4 linked regions of the Homo sapiens genome follow. The protein of the gene in region 4 interacts with the protein of the main gene of each other region in a pairwise test. Each region holds a gene or a part of one and is shown on either strand. Other genes may lie near its edges. The genes, in order: PSMB1, THOC3, RAD18 and MLKL.

Region 1 (3,706 bases), on a different chromosome or scaffold from region 4:
GCTGCCTGAATGAGTTGCTTGAATGTATGTACTATTTGAATAATTACCTGTTTGCCATTGCTTGCTGTTTATATTACCTGGAATGCCATCCTTTTCTTCTTGAGAGCTTTAGCACAAATCCCTCCTCAGTAAAAATAGTGGCTTAAGTTTCCTGAGTGCTTACGTCTGTGAGGCACCATGCCTTTAATTTCCACTATTGCATTGAAGCAGTGGTTATAGTTATCAGTCAAGCCTTGTACATTAAAATATACACACCCAAATATATATACACACCTTGTGACACAGGTACTGTTATCATCAACTTGCATTTGGAGGATTTGTCCAAGATCACATACCTAGTAAGTAGCAAGAGTGGGTCTCTGTCTCATGTAATTCCAGAGCCCAGGTGCTTAGTCATACTCCAGTGCCATAGCACTTATAGCTAACACTTACTAGAGGACCAGTTACATGTCAGGGACTGCTATAAGGGCTTACATATTTGATCCTTTGAACACCCTAATGAGGTAGCAACTGCAGTGATCTCTGTTGTATATATGATGAAATTGACGCTTTGAGAAGTAACTTACCCACAGTCTCATATCTGCGAAACGGGAAAGCCAGAATTAGAACCCAGGCGGTCTGCTTTTGGAATTCTACTGTAAGTCTCTTTGATAAGCTGTCAAATTGTACAGCCACAGAGGGAAAAATTTACTGTTTGTCCATCTATTTGTCATTATATAAGGGATTGGGTATAAAGAAATAAGCATTATATAGGCGTTATATAAGGACTTGGATATAAAGAAATGAAGCAAGAAAAAAAAATCTCATCTTCTCTAAACTCATAGAGCTTGCGTTGTAGTACCACTGTCTATACCTGATCCTCAAGGGCACAGATGTGGTATTTAGTTGTTCTGTATTAGTAGTACCTTGCGCGAGTAAGTATTTAATGTGTTGGTGATGATAATTCATTGGCTTTTCTGTTAACTCCTGCCAAGGAGACTTTGCCCTGATTTAGGCTTATTAATAATTTTTTTTTCCCAGACAACTCGTAGCCAGGCGTTCATTCTCTTCCCGCTCATCTTTCCTCTTCCCATTTGAATCATGTTTTTGTTGACATCTAGAGTATTTTATCCCATTATGTACTATGGAGCATTCTTCTATTTGTAGGGATAGGATTACCACCCTGGAGAATTAATTTTTTTCTTTTTTCCTCAGTACTATACTGGCAATTGCTGGAGAAGATTTTGCAATTGTTGCTTCTGATACTCGATTGAGTGAAGGGTTTTCAATTCATACGCGGGATAGCCCCAAATGTTACAAATTGTAAGTAAATATTTCTAAAGACATTTCACAATGCCTTTGTAATGATTTGATGTTGTGAGAGTTTCTACTTCTAAATGATTTGTTTCATGAGTTTTTAAGTTGCTGTTGGGAGCATTTTTATTAGAAAACCATTTTCTAAGTTAATGTTTCCTAATAATTTAATGTGCAGTCTTAATAATATTTGCTGTATTCAGGGTACCAAAAGTGCTTTCGGTAACCTAAATGTGTTCACCCCAGCATTTTACCATGAAAAATTTCCTGCTGTGTCTTAACATGGTGGAAGGCCAGAGAAAGAAAGAAGAGCAAGCGAACCCACTGCTGTGATAATGTCCATTCATGAAAGCTGAGCCCTAGGACCTAAACACCTGGTCCCAACTCCCAGTACCATCACAATGGCAATTAAATTTCAACATGAGTTTTGAAGGGAATATTCAAACCACAGCACCATTAATCCATTAAATGATATTTTTTTTAAATCTGCCTCCCCACACTTTTTTTTTTTACCTGAAACATTCGTTTTAGAAATATCCTAAGCAATTATGTCCACAGCTCAGTTTTAATAGGCTAGCTATGTTTTTCCTAAAACATGAAAATAAAGCCAAAACTTAAAAAAACAAAAAGCCTGCATAAATACTGAATACATACTGCAGATTGGCAGTGGTCTGTATTTACCAGTTTTGGAAATGCTTATAAATGGTCATGAATTCCTGGGTTAATTAAACTTGAATTGTAATAGGAATGGGACTTACGAGGTTTAGGTCCTTTGGATGGACCCTCCTTGTATTGTAGGAAGTAGGTACAGAAGAAAAGATACGTTGTCTTTCCTGCTCCTAGGGATGGCCCACATCTTAAAAAGCAATGAAGTTTGTTTTCGTCTTCCCAGTTCTGTTTCTCTCCACTTGCATCTTTTGATACCCCCTTTCTGCTTTCTGTTTATGGTGCTCTTGTGTTACCTTTTTTTCTCCTCAAGGACGACACTTGTACAACTTGAAAGTAGTAAATATTAGAAATAAGATTTTAAAACAACTTTATGGATACCATCCTTGTACTAGCTTTTACTCATCTTTTAAATATTGCTTTAGTTACGTTTGCTGGTGAAGTGAGCACTTTTTTTTTTTTTTTTTGTGAAACACGTCAGATATAGAGATAGAGAATAAGAACAATGCAGCATTAACGAATGCCTGTATATATCCCTCATCCCACGTCCTGTGGGTCTGACCTAGAACTAAGCTTGCCTCTTCCAAACCTGTTTCAGACTGTATTCTTTGCATGAAAACTCCCATTCCTTTGATGCACCTGGATATTTGGGAAAAGCATCTTGAAGTTCTAAGATTTCTGTCTTTCCCTGTTGGTATTGTCAACCAATCTTGTCAGTAAAGGCAGTAAAGCCTTATAGGGGATTGGACGTCTTCACCTTAGTGCAGTGAGGTTGATGGTAGGCATAGATCAGGTGATGTTAGTGATGACCCTAGAGGTGTCAGCTGCTCTCCTAGTAGGACAGGTATGGTTTGTGCGAGTCATTCGTAAGTTTCCAAGAGGAATTGTGTGGCCTCTGCAAAATATTGTTTAGGTTTCTTTATAGATTCATATCAAGATCTAGGAATTAATTTTTGAAATACACGGTTGAATTTGTATGTCTATACCAAATTTTAATCCTCTCCATACAGATGGACATTTAGGTTTTGTTTTGTTTTGGGGTGCTATTTAAATGAGTACTCACTGGTGAGTCTAGAGCATCCCTTTGCATACTTGGATAAGTATATTAACAAGATGGATTTCTAGCAATAGAATTGGTGAGAGTGGTGTGTATTTAAATTTTTAATAAATACCACCAAATTGCCCATCTAACAGGTTAATCAGTTTATACTGTTTCCACAACCTCACCAGCATTTAGTTAGTTAGGCATTTTTAGCCAGTATAATTGGTTGAAATAGTCTCTTTTTGAGATTTGGATTTCTGAGTAACATAGAGGCTCTTATGTTTATGGTGACTTAATGTCTCTTTTTTCTGTGACTTGTCTGTTCATAGAAGTTACCCATCTTTCCTTTATGTTATTGCTTTCCTTATTTGTAAGAATTTTTATAGAATTAAAATTAGACTTTGGGGGTAGATGCTACTAATATATTTTCTTAGGGTTTTAAAAAGCTATTCTTAAATTTCCCTGTAGAATTTTATGTAGTCAAATTTATGAAATTTTTCTGTGTGGCCCTTGGATTGTGTTGTTTAAATCTACCTTCACGAGGCTGGGTGCAGTGGTTCACACCTGTAATCCCAGCACTTTGGAGGCCAAGGCAGGTGGATTACCTGAGGTCAGGAGTTTGAGACCAGCCTGGCCAACATGGTGAAACCCCATCTGTACTAAAAATACAAAAATCAGCTGGGTGTGGTGGCGGGTGCCTGTAAT
Region 2 (3,143 bases), on a different chromosome or scaffold from region 4:
ACCACCAATGTGATGACTTGAAACAAAAAATGTTTTTGGTTTTTGCATATACTCTTTCCATTCTTCCCCCATTAAAAAAATAGTACTATATGTTGTAAGCATGTGCAGATGTTACATATTATACCCTCTCTTTAAACCATGTATAGTTTTTGCAAGAAACTGTATATTCAGTGTTGAGCACCAGTCCTTATAAGTCTCTAGTCATTTTTTTAATTGAAGCTCATTCTCTAGTTAAGATTCCTCGGGAAGCGTTCATGGGAACATTATTCCTGGAGTTTTTATTACAACTTATTTACGTACTTCTAAAACTTACAGATTTTATAAAACGTTATTGTGCTTATTGTTTGTATCATTATATTTGAAATTCAGTTTTGCTGGATGTAAAAATCCTTGGCTCGTTTTCTCGCTTGTGTATCTTTCTTAAATATGGTACTCCATTTTCTTTTGGCATTAAGTGTTGCTGTCAGAAAGCCCAATAATCTAATTTTCTTTTTCTTTAAAGTCCACTAGTTTTGCTAGTCTCTGTCTCGATGTTGGTAACTTTGGTTCTGTAGTCTCAGGTATGTGTTGTGCTTTTTAAATAATGTAGTTCAAAATCTTTTTTTATTTCAGGAATGTTATCTTGAATGACAGTTCTTGGTGGTGGTCTATTATCTTTGCTTTTCTTCTTCATCATCTCCTATTATTGTTTCAGCACCACAGTCCTCTTCTGCAGTTTGATCGCTGTCTTTTTTCTCAGCTACCCAGAACTGAAGCCTGTGCAGTCCATCAACGCCCATCCTTCCAACTGCATCTGTATCAAGTTTGACCCCATGGGGAAGTACTTTGCCACAGGAAGTGCAGATGCTTTGGTCAGCCTCTGGGATGTGGATGAGTTAGTGTGTGTTCGGTGCTTTTCCAGGTAAGTGACTCTATCAGCACTTCCCTTGTTGGGTACATTAATTTTATTTCATCTTGAGTGACATTGTTCCCTCCTCTTACTTGGTAATTCTCTTGTCTCTTCTGTCCACTCTGTATCATAGGCTGGATTGGCCTGTAAGAACCCTCAGTTTCAGCCATGATGGGAAAATGCTGGCGTCAGCATCGGAAGATCATTTTATTGACATTGCTGAAGTGGAGACAGGTAACTTCATGAGAATCTACCGTCTTTCACCTTTGGCAGTCAGGACTTCTCTTGTGATCTCATCTCTGCATGTGACTACTTCACCAGCATGATCATGAATGAATTTGTCTCCTTTAGACAAGTATGTTTCTGTTTTGACTGTCACTGCCAGGTGGTGAGGAAGCAAAGAGTTAAGAAATAAACAGGCAGGTCTGAGGAAAGTGATTTAGAAAAATATTTTGATTTATTTAAACTTTAAACTACAGAGTAGAAGGAAGAAAAAAGCACCACTTGGGGTCCCACTCTCTAAATACCACCTGTTTTAAATGTTGTGATATATTTCTCTTTATCTTTTGCCTGTATATGAACTTGAAAAAATATTATTTAAAATTTGAGGAATTATAAAGTTTTTGCTTTAAAAACAACAGAAGCTGGAAATAGAAAAATGGGAGGAGAGTATTCATTTTGCAAAAGAATTTCCTCAGATTTGTTTTTTAATGTTGCTTTATTGTTTTTGGAAATCTTTGACACTCTTCGTAAAAAGATTAAAACTGTATAGAAAACTTCGAAGAGGAAAGTAAAGAACTTGAAATTCCACTATGTAAAGAATGCATGCCCCTGTTAGTCACGTTGTGGTGAACATTGTCCAGCATCCAGCCATGCAGATCCTTCATGTAACTGCATGTCCCTGTGACGCGGAGACACTTTCCTGCTCAGTGACCTGCTCTTGAGTTAACCCACCTGTGCTCAGAACCGGCTCTGTCCTCCACTGGCTTGTGGGCTCTCTGTGCCTGGGGGTTCTCTGTAAAATGAGGTAATAGTTGTATCTATCTCATGGGATTAGTAGGTGGATTAAACCAGTTAATACTGGTAAGTACTTAATGAATGTGTCCTTCGTTTTGAACGTATTGATTGGTTTCTCTCTATTGTTTTCTGTAGGGGACAAACTATGGGAGGTACAGTGTGAGTCTCCGACCTTCACAGTGGCGTGGCACCCCAAAAGGCCTCTGCTGGCATTTGCCTGTGATGACAAAGACGGCAAATATGACAGCAGCCGGGAAGCCGGAACTGTGAAGCTGTTTGGGCTTCCTAATGATTCTTGAGAGGAGGTTGTAGGGAGAGGAGGCCCCGGCAGAGGTCTTCCTTCATGTGGTTAGTTTGGTCTGTTCTCTCGGAGTTGGTGGGCACCCTAAATATTTGTAAGTTGGTATAAATTGTAAACGTCTCTGGTCAGGCTGCGCATTTCATTCTTTTGCTTTGTCTGTGTATTAGCTCTTTCCATTCTTTGCCCCCAGCATGAGTTAACTCGCGTGGACTCTGCAGTGCGAGTAGTGACCCCACCATACCTTGTCCTCTGGACCTCCTGTCTTCTCTGCTTCTGGGTGCATGGTAGACTTTGTGGCATTTGATACAACTTGGACAATACCTAGTTTGGAGGGAGGGGAATGGAAGGGCATGGAAGTTTTTTTAAATAATTAAAAATATATATATATAATTTTGAGAATTGAGCATTTAATAAACTGACTTTTGTTATTATGGAACTTCTAAGACTTTTAAAATTATTATGTCCTTGAGTTGCAGTTTTGTATTTTTTTTTTTTTTAATTTCAGAAAGAGAATTTAAATGTTATAATTCTGTCATTTAATGTCCCAACCAAGAAGCCTCTGAAATATAGGGACAAAGCTAATTGAATGACCAAACTAAAATTTTGGCTCTGAGCTTCCTGGTGGCAAAGTGAAGAGGGGAGTAAGTCATTTAGCTTTCTTATTGAAAAGAAAAACACTTATTGGTTCCTCATGGAAAGCAAAGCTTTATTAGTTCTTCCCTCTAAAAAAAAGGGCTTATGTTTGGAGGGTTGTTACCTAAGAGCAGTGGTTTTTCATTATATTGTAATTTTGTTTGGTGTTAAAGCAAATATTGAGGCATATAGAAATAGTGTTGGTAGAAAATTTTGGAAAAAGATAAGCAAAAAGAAAAATTACATTCCTAGCACCAAGAGGTAACTGCTATTAGAATTTTGATGTATATCCTTCCAGAAGTT
Region 3 (3,706 bases), on a different chromosome or scaffold from region 4:
AAATTTCCTCTACCACTTAAGCTTCAATTTGATTACAAGCGTCCTTGATAACAGAATCTGAGGGGTTGAGTATGAAGCTGGTGACAAGACTGGCATGTCTTCAGCACAGCAAGGCCAAATCTATGTAATATACTCATTAACCCCACCCTGAGAACGCCCAGTTGGACCAGATAAATAAATACCACATAGTATGATGCTACTAAAGGAATTTGGTCTTGACTGGTAGTCCCTTCTAAGTTTGAATCTTTTCCTGATTTCTATGGTATCAGTTACCAGAATCAAATGGGTGTCTCTCTTGACTAAGTTTCAGCGTCATTAAATAACACTGGCAATAAGCAATGATTCTGATAGGTAGGCATTTTAAATCAGTACAATTCATTCAGAGGGCAATGCCTACATATCAGAATAATAAAGATAAGTGGCCAGGTACGGTGGCTCATGCCTGTAATTCCAGCACTTTGGGAGGCCGAGGTGGGTGGATCACTTGAGGTCAGGAGTTTGAGACCAGCCTGGCCAACACGGTGAAACCCTGTCTCTACTAAATGTACAAAAAAAAAAATTAGCCAGGCGTGGTGGCACAGGCCTGTAATCCCAGCCACTTGGGAAGCTGAGGTAGGAGAAATGCTTGAACCTGGGAGGTGGAGGTTGCAGTGAGCCGAAATCGCACCACCGCACTCCAGGCTGGGCAACAGAGTGAGACTCCGTCTCAAAAAAATGAAAAAAAAAGTATTCAATAGAAACAAAGGAAGAGCTTTACCATAGCATCAGGTACATAAGTAGAACACTGGGAAAAATGTAGAGCTCTAACAGAAACTGAAGGGTCTGGTAAATTATAGCGCAGAGACATAACAGAATACTGTACTCATTAAAAAATAACAATTATAAACATAAGCTATTATGTTGGTGCAAAAGTAACTGTGGTTTCAATTACTTTTGTGCCAACCTATAGAAACGTAACATTTATGACATAACATTAAGTGAAAGACCGGAACAAAAACTGGTATGTGTGTGTGCATGCGTGTGTGTGTGTGTGTGTGTGTGTGTGTGTGTAAAATAAACCCTATATATTTTTTAAAATATCTTTTCAAAATGACTCATTACCAAACTTCTCATTTTTAAAGTTTCCCCATCTATTCTATTTACTCAGTTAAATTTTTCATTTCTTAACCCTCCTATGCGCCATGTCTTTCTGATCATTTCTGTTTTCCAATATAGTTGTTTTTATCTCCTTTACTCATCGTCTTGACAAAAATTTCACTGTCTATCATGCTTTCTTTTCCAACGGTAGGAAAAGTATCTACATAAAGGCTATAGAGTAGAGACCAAACTCACCCTGTGATCCCTGCACTACCTTCCCAAATCCTGCCTTGTTATCACTGTGAAGAAGACCCAGCAGTAAAAGGGGACTGAAATGTAAGAGTGACACACCATGCCATGCCTCAAAGCTACATTCTAATTATTTCTGCCTATCTATCTACATGTGCATATGAAGTAGATATTTAAAATAATCAACTACTGCATGTTTCTTACCTATTGCATGAATCTGATTCTGATGAAGAAAGAACTTCTTGAATATCAATACAGCTAGAAGAATCCTCTTCTCTGTCAGGTTCCAATTCCTCTGGGGAGTCCAGCTTTGATTGAGAAAAGTGGTTTGTTACTGAGGTCATATTATCTTCCTGTCCTAGGAAAAAATAAATTTAAGAGTACCTTAAAATCTACAACTTCTGTATGCCTATTACTTCTGCAACACTTAATACTGCCATGTGCACTTAGTAAAGTTGAAGTATATGTCACATAGATTCCAGAACTCTAGTGACAGCCAGAGAGCAAGAATTAACACTACAATGGTGCTATCTAATTATACTGTCCAGCCCATGTTTTTCCAAGATTAATTAGTTTAAAAATAAAATTTATTTTAAAACCAGAAGCAGGAAGAATCTTGTAATTCTAATGAGGCCTCTATTAACATATCACTAAGGAATTCTTGCATATTTCATAGATCAGAGAACACTGACAAACCAACATAAGAAGTATAACCAAAAAAAGACTACAGATTCAACTAATAAGACAACCACAATATTTGCTACTATTATATGATAGTGAATCTATCTGGACATTTTTCTAAACATTTTTCTAGGTTAACTAGAATCTAATTATTCTCTATGGAAAAGGACAACTAAACAGACATAAGGAATATTTCCATTTGATCCAATACACATCACATTTCCGTGCATTCTTTGTCATATTCTCAGATTTCAAGGTCTCTTATTGCAGATAAAAATAAAGACCCCAAAAAGCTGGAAGGATGCAGTGTTTACAAAAATGTGGCATATGGGTATGGCCAATTTTCTACAAATATGAGTGGAAGAATATCTGTGAAAGATTCTTTAGTGCCCAGGATTCTCCCACTCATCATGAACGCTGCTGGGATTTTCATCTGTGCTGTCCTTAACTTTCAGGAACTGAGGAGGTACCTCACATGCAAGCTACATGTGCTAATAATACTACAGAGCTCCTTTCATGTGTTTCCTCACAGAGAAACAGAGCTTTCACACATCACTCATCAAGCACTTGTAGAGGCAAGTGGTCTTCAACAAAGCACACTAAAAATACAATTGTCAAGGTTTGATTATACAGAGAGAATTTATGGGGAAAGAACATAACAAATTCTTCAAAAAACCTTGCCAAGTTCATACAGTTAAATTTTTTTCAGAAATAGTTCTAAGTTTTTGTTACACTGAGAGAACAGCATACTTCACAAGAGTGTAATTCCTAAAAATATGCTCCTAATGTCATCTGGCTGTCAATAAACTATCATTAGCAAAACAAAACAGCACCCTCTAATGTATATCTGGAAAAGGGAAAAAGAATTTAGCCAGGATGACCATCCTGAACCTCTAGGAACTCCTCTTGTAAACAGATACCAGAATCACATTAAGAGGAGCCAATCCCCCAGTCAACTCGGTTCACCCAGGGACTATATTACTCAACTAGTGAGGTGCATGCAAGCAAGCTAGCAAACCAGGGAACAGGAATTCAACTTAAAACAATCTTTTATTTTTGCACATTGTCTGTATTCTTTTCTTACTTCTTCCACTCTTACATACACTTCTAGAAGATATATTCCCTCTTGGGAACAAACAGCATTCAATAATCTGTGGGCATAAAAAATAAGTTATCCTTCCTACTTGCCCTTAGATCTCAGAATGCAGGACTCCAAAATAGAGCCCCGAAGAGTGAGGCTCAGACATCAGAGCTCCCCAGAGACACACAACAAAAACAGGCTAAGTTTTCACTTGAGAGAATATGCAACTTGTTCACTTACATGAGCACTTCAATGTTCTAAAGAGCAACAATTATATTGGTTGTATGATGCTATACAAAATCCATCTTTTCAGTCAGTCTGTGTCTGTCTTCATCTCTCTCACATACCTTACCCTCTCAGACATCTCATTCATGCACAGCAATCTAAAAGCAGCAATCACCTCTGAACCCCGGAAAGAGTAATATTGATGTTCATAAATACATACAAGCCATCAATGATATTCAAGAGAGGTTCAACTAATTAAAAAAACTTTTCTTAATGGGAAATATTCAGTCAGATTTTCTCAAGTGCTAAACTAGTTTCTAGAAATATCCTTTAACAACTGCATGAACAAGTTCGAGTTGTTCAATGACCATGAGTTACATACTGAGGCAGCAC
Region 4 (3,706 bases):
AAACTGAAAGGAGAGTAATTTTCCCTTTATATAATCTTGCATACCACCTTATCCCACACTTTTGGAAACACTGTCTTAGCTATTAATTTGAAATTAAGTTTGTTTCTTCTCAACTCCCTAAACTAGTGAGTTTAAGGAGAAGTATTTTTGGATGTTGTAGGGGACACTGTTAATATCCCCTCCAAATGACCTCTGATCCTTTTTACCAGCTCTATTTACCCATCCCCCTCTCGGCATGCTTTGCTGCTGAAAGTTCACAGCTGCAATCTTCAGAGGATTGCCTGTGGGCACTGGAGCCCTTTCACCCTTATAGACAGCTGAAAGTGCCCACGAGTTTTATATCCATCTGTCCCTGCCCTCCCCAACACAGTCCATAACCACTGACTGGTGTAAGTATAAAAGTCCAGTTCCTTTGCTTCCTGTGGGACACACTCTGAGGTGTAATTGTGCCCACAGGTCTCCGCGAGACCACCTGAGCCTGGGATTTCACCTGAAATCAACCTCTTGCTTGATTTCTTCTCCTTCGCCATCCTACTTCCTGTACTCCCTCAACCATTTCTCCTGGGAGCACCTTCTTTTTGTTTGTTTGGGGGACTTTTGGAGTTATTTTTTTTTTGAGACAGAGCCTCATTTTGCTGCCCAGGCTGGAGTATAGTGGCGTGATCTCGGCTCACTGCAAACTCCACCTCCTGGGTGCAAGTGATTCTCATGCTTTAGCATCCTGAATAGCTGGAATTACAGGCACATGCCACCACGCCCAGCTATTTTTTTGTATTTTTATTAATAGTAGAGATGATGTTTCACCATGTTGGCGAAGCTGGTCTCAAACTCCTGACCTCAAGTGATCCATCCACCTTGGTCTCCCAAAGTGTGGGGATTATAAGCGCAAGCCACCATGCCTGGTCAAGGGAGCACCTTCTTGATACAAATCCCTCGTGCCCAAATCATGGCTCATGATCTGCTTCTGGGAGAATCTGAGCTCAGGCAGACACCATGAGTGCAACCCAACCTGGGACGCAGGGGCTTTGTGAAACCAAAGCCCTTGTCTGGAAGTCAGCGGGACCCCAGCTTCACATTCTGCTTTGACCTGAAGGGTCCCAGCAAGGTCCAGCCACCCAGCCATGCCTCTGAGCTCTCGGATCTGCCCAGCACTTCCCAGGCAAAGCAACACAGAGGCAACGTTGTCCTTCTCTACCTAAAGGCACCCCTGATGCCCGATTGCATGCACTTCATAAGGGCTGTCATGCCCCCTTGTGCTATGAATCTCATCTCTGTTCTATACTCACGGCTTGTGATTCTCAAACCTTGCCTCTACATCCCAGTTTTTCCTGTGTAACTGTGGACAGGCACCCATGGTACTGTCCAGCCTCATCAGCCCAGTTATGATTGTCAGTCCCCCAAAGAAAGTTTGGGCAAAGGTACTTATGCTCCCCGCCTTTGGCTGTGTCAGGCTACACCATTCAGAAGCACCTGAACTCCACGGAAAAATCAGAAGCTCAAACTTCCTGGTAACTCAAGGCTACCAAGTGAAGGTGAGTGTGCCTTGCGGGGGCGCTTTGGGTCAAACCTGCATGACTGGTGCTATGAGAGGGGCACGAGTGTCTCAGAAAGGCTTGATTCTTGTCTTAGTTTATTTATTTATTTATTTAGAGACAGAGTCTCTTTCTGTCACCCAAGCTGGAGGGCAGTGAGCGAGATCGCCCCGCTGCAACCTCTGCTTCCCAGGTTCAAGCGATTCTCCTGCCTCAGCCTCCCAAGTAGCTGGGATTACAGCCATGCACCACCACTCCTGACTAATTTTTGCATTTTTAGTAGAGACAGGGTTTCACCATGTTGGCCAGCTGGTTTTGAACTCCTGGCCTCAAGTGATCCGCCCACCTGGGCCTCCCAAAGTGCTGGGATTACAGGCATGAGCCACCATGCCCGGCCTTGCCTTGGTTTTAGAACTGAGTTCAATTTTAGTTTTTTAGTTTCAGAACTAACTTCAACTTTCTGTGTGCCCACCACACAACAGTCTCCATCTATGCCGCCTGTTCTGATGACTGCCTTCCCTCACTGCCCATTTAGCAGGGATGGGCTACAAGTCATTTCCCCTTAGATGCCTGGACACCACTTCTATGTCCCTACAACATACAATGGGGGATCTTGTTAGGTTTAAGGACTCAGACTCACAGGACAGGTCTAGGCCACACTTGTCATTCAGTTACTTAGAAGGATGTCAGCAGCGCCAAACCTTTCCCTCCAGGGTGAGTCCTCGCAGTCATCCAGGAGATACTCTCTTTGTCAGAGCCACAGGTGCTGGAGAAAGAGGCTCCCATTAGGTGGGTGTGGGTCATCCAGGCTTAGAAGCCCATGACCTGCAGGAGTCAGCATCTCTGGTAACAACTCTGCAGGCATGCCTTCCAGTGTTTCTGCAAGTGACATGTGAGTTGCTGTTTTAAGAGCTGCCACATCTGGGTATGGTGGCTCACGCCTGTAATCCCAACACTTAGGGAGGCTAAGGCGGGTGGATCACCTGAGGTCAGGAGTTCAAGACTAGCCTGGCCAACATAGTGAAACACTGTCTCTACTAAAAATACAAAAAATTAGCCGGGTGTGGTGGCGCACGCCTCTAGTCCCAGCTCCTAAGGAGGCTGAGGCAGGAGAATCACTTGAACCCGGGAGGCAGAGGTTTGCAGTGAGCCGAGATCGCGTGGTTGAACTCCAGCCCGGGCAACAACAGCAAAACTCCATCTCCAAAAAAAAAGAAAAAAGAAAAGAAAAGAGCTGCTACATGGCCAGGCATGGTGGCTTATGCCTGTAATCCCCGCACTTTGGAAGGGAAGGCAGGAGGATCACTTTGAGCCCAAGAGTTCAAGACCAGCCTTGGCAACACAGTGAGACCTCCCCCTCTTCAAAAAATTTAAAAATCAGCCAGTCATGGTGGTGCACACCTGTAATTCCAGCTACTCAGGAGAGTGAGGCAGGAGGAGGATGCCTAGAGCCCAGGAGGTCAAGGCTGCAGGGAGCTATGTTTACGCCACTGTATACCCTAGCCTGGGCAACAGAATGAGACCCTGTCTCAAAAAATAAAAAAGAGGCTGGGCGCGGTGGCTCACACCTGTAATCCCAGCACTTTGGGAGGCCAAGGCAGGTGGATCATGAGGTTAGGAGATCGAGACCATCCTGGCTAACACAGTGAAACCCTGTCTCTACTAAACAATACAAAAAATTGGCCAGGCGTGGTGGCAGGTGCCTGTAGTCCCAGCTACTCCGGAGGCTGAGGCAGGAGAATGGCATGAACCCAGGAGGCAGAACTTGCAGTGAGCTGAGATTGCACCACTGCTCTCCAACCTGGGCGACAGAGTGAGACTCCGTCTCAAAAAATAAATAAATAAATAAATAAATAAGAAAAATTTGCTACAAAGCATTCCCATCAGCTGTTTACTGTGTAGTCCTGTTACCCCCTTGATCCTGCCCAGAAGCAATCTAACAATCAGCAGTCATTTTTATTTTCATCATCAGCAATGTTACTAAGAGCCATAGGTGACAGTCTACCTGTATCAGATTTCCAGGGGAACAGAGCTAAGAAGTTCACTGGAAGTCAGATTTTCATACAGAAGAGGAAAAGATTTTGTGAACTCAGTGTCCACAATTCCCAAATGCTAAAAGAATTTTAGCAGTTTTCTTTGTCATCCATAGACGGTTTTCTTTCTTCCAGTCCTAC

The links.
Region 1: the proteins of MLKL (region 4) and PSMB1 interact in binary tests that used the Homo sapiens proteins (3 or more experiments, as listed by UniProt).
Region 2: the proteins of MLKL (region 4) and THOC3 interact in a two-hybrid assay, tested with the Homo sapiens proteins (one large-scale study listed by BioGRID and IntAct).
Region 3: the proteins of MLKL (region 4) and RAD18 interact in a two-hybrid assay, tested with the Homo sapiens proteins (one large-scale study listed by BioGRID and IntAct).

What each region holds. Positions count from the first base shown.
Region 1 is NC_000006.12:170,546,602-170,550,307, reverse strand, and holds part of PSMB1 (proteasome subunit beta type-1), read left to right. Parts: intron 1-1,194; coding exon 1,195-1,302; intron 1,303-3,706. UniProt on the Homo sapiens protein: Non-catalytic component of the 20S core proteasome complex involved in the proteolytic degradation of most intracellular proteins. This complex plays numerous essential roles within the cell by associating with different regulatory particles.
Region 2 is NC_000005.10:175,959,031-175,962,173, reverse strand, and holds the end of THOC3 (THO complex subunit 3), read left to right. Parts: intron 1-739; coding exon 740-901; intron 902-1,022; coding exon 1,023-1,123; coding exon of another isoform or gene 1,124-1,215; exon of another isoform or gene 1,216-1,984; intron 1,985-2,041; coding exon 2,042-2,205; 3' UTR 2,206-2,643; downstream 2,644-3,143. UniProt on the Homo sapiens protein: Component of the THO subcomplex of the TREX complex which is thought to couple mRNA transcription, processing and nuclear export, and which specifically associates with spliced mRNA and not with unspliced pre-mRNA.
Region 3 is NC_000003.12:8,897,364-8,901,069, forward strand, and holds part of RAD18 (E3 ubiquitin-protein ligase RAD18), read right to left. Parts: intron 1,685-3,706; coding exon 1,531-1,684; intron 1-1,530. UniProt on the Homo sapiens protein: E3 ubiquitin-protein ligase involved in postreplication repair of UV-damaged DNA. Postreplication repair functions in gap-filling of a daughter strand on replication of damaged DNA.
Region 4 is NC_000016.10:74,676,725-74,680,430, reverse strand, and holds part of MLKL (mixed lineage kinase domain-like protein), read left to right. Parts: intron 1-1,450; coding exon 1,451-1,532; intron 1,533-3,706. UniProt on the Homo sapiens protein: Pseudokinase that plays a key role in TNF-induced necroptosis, a programmed cell death process. Does not have protein kinase activity.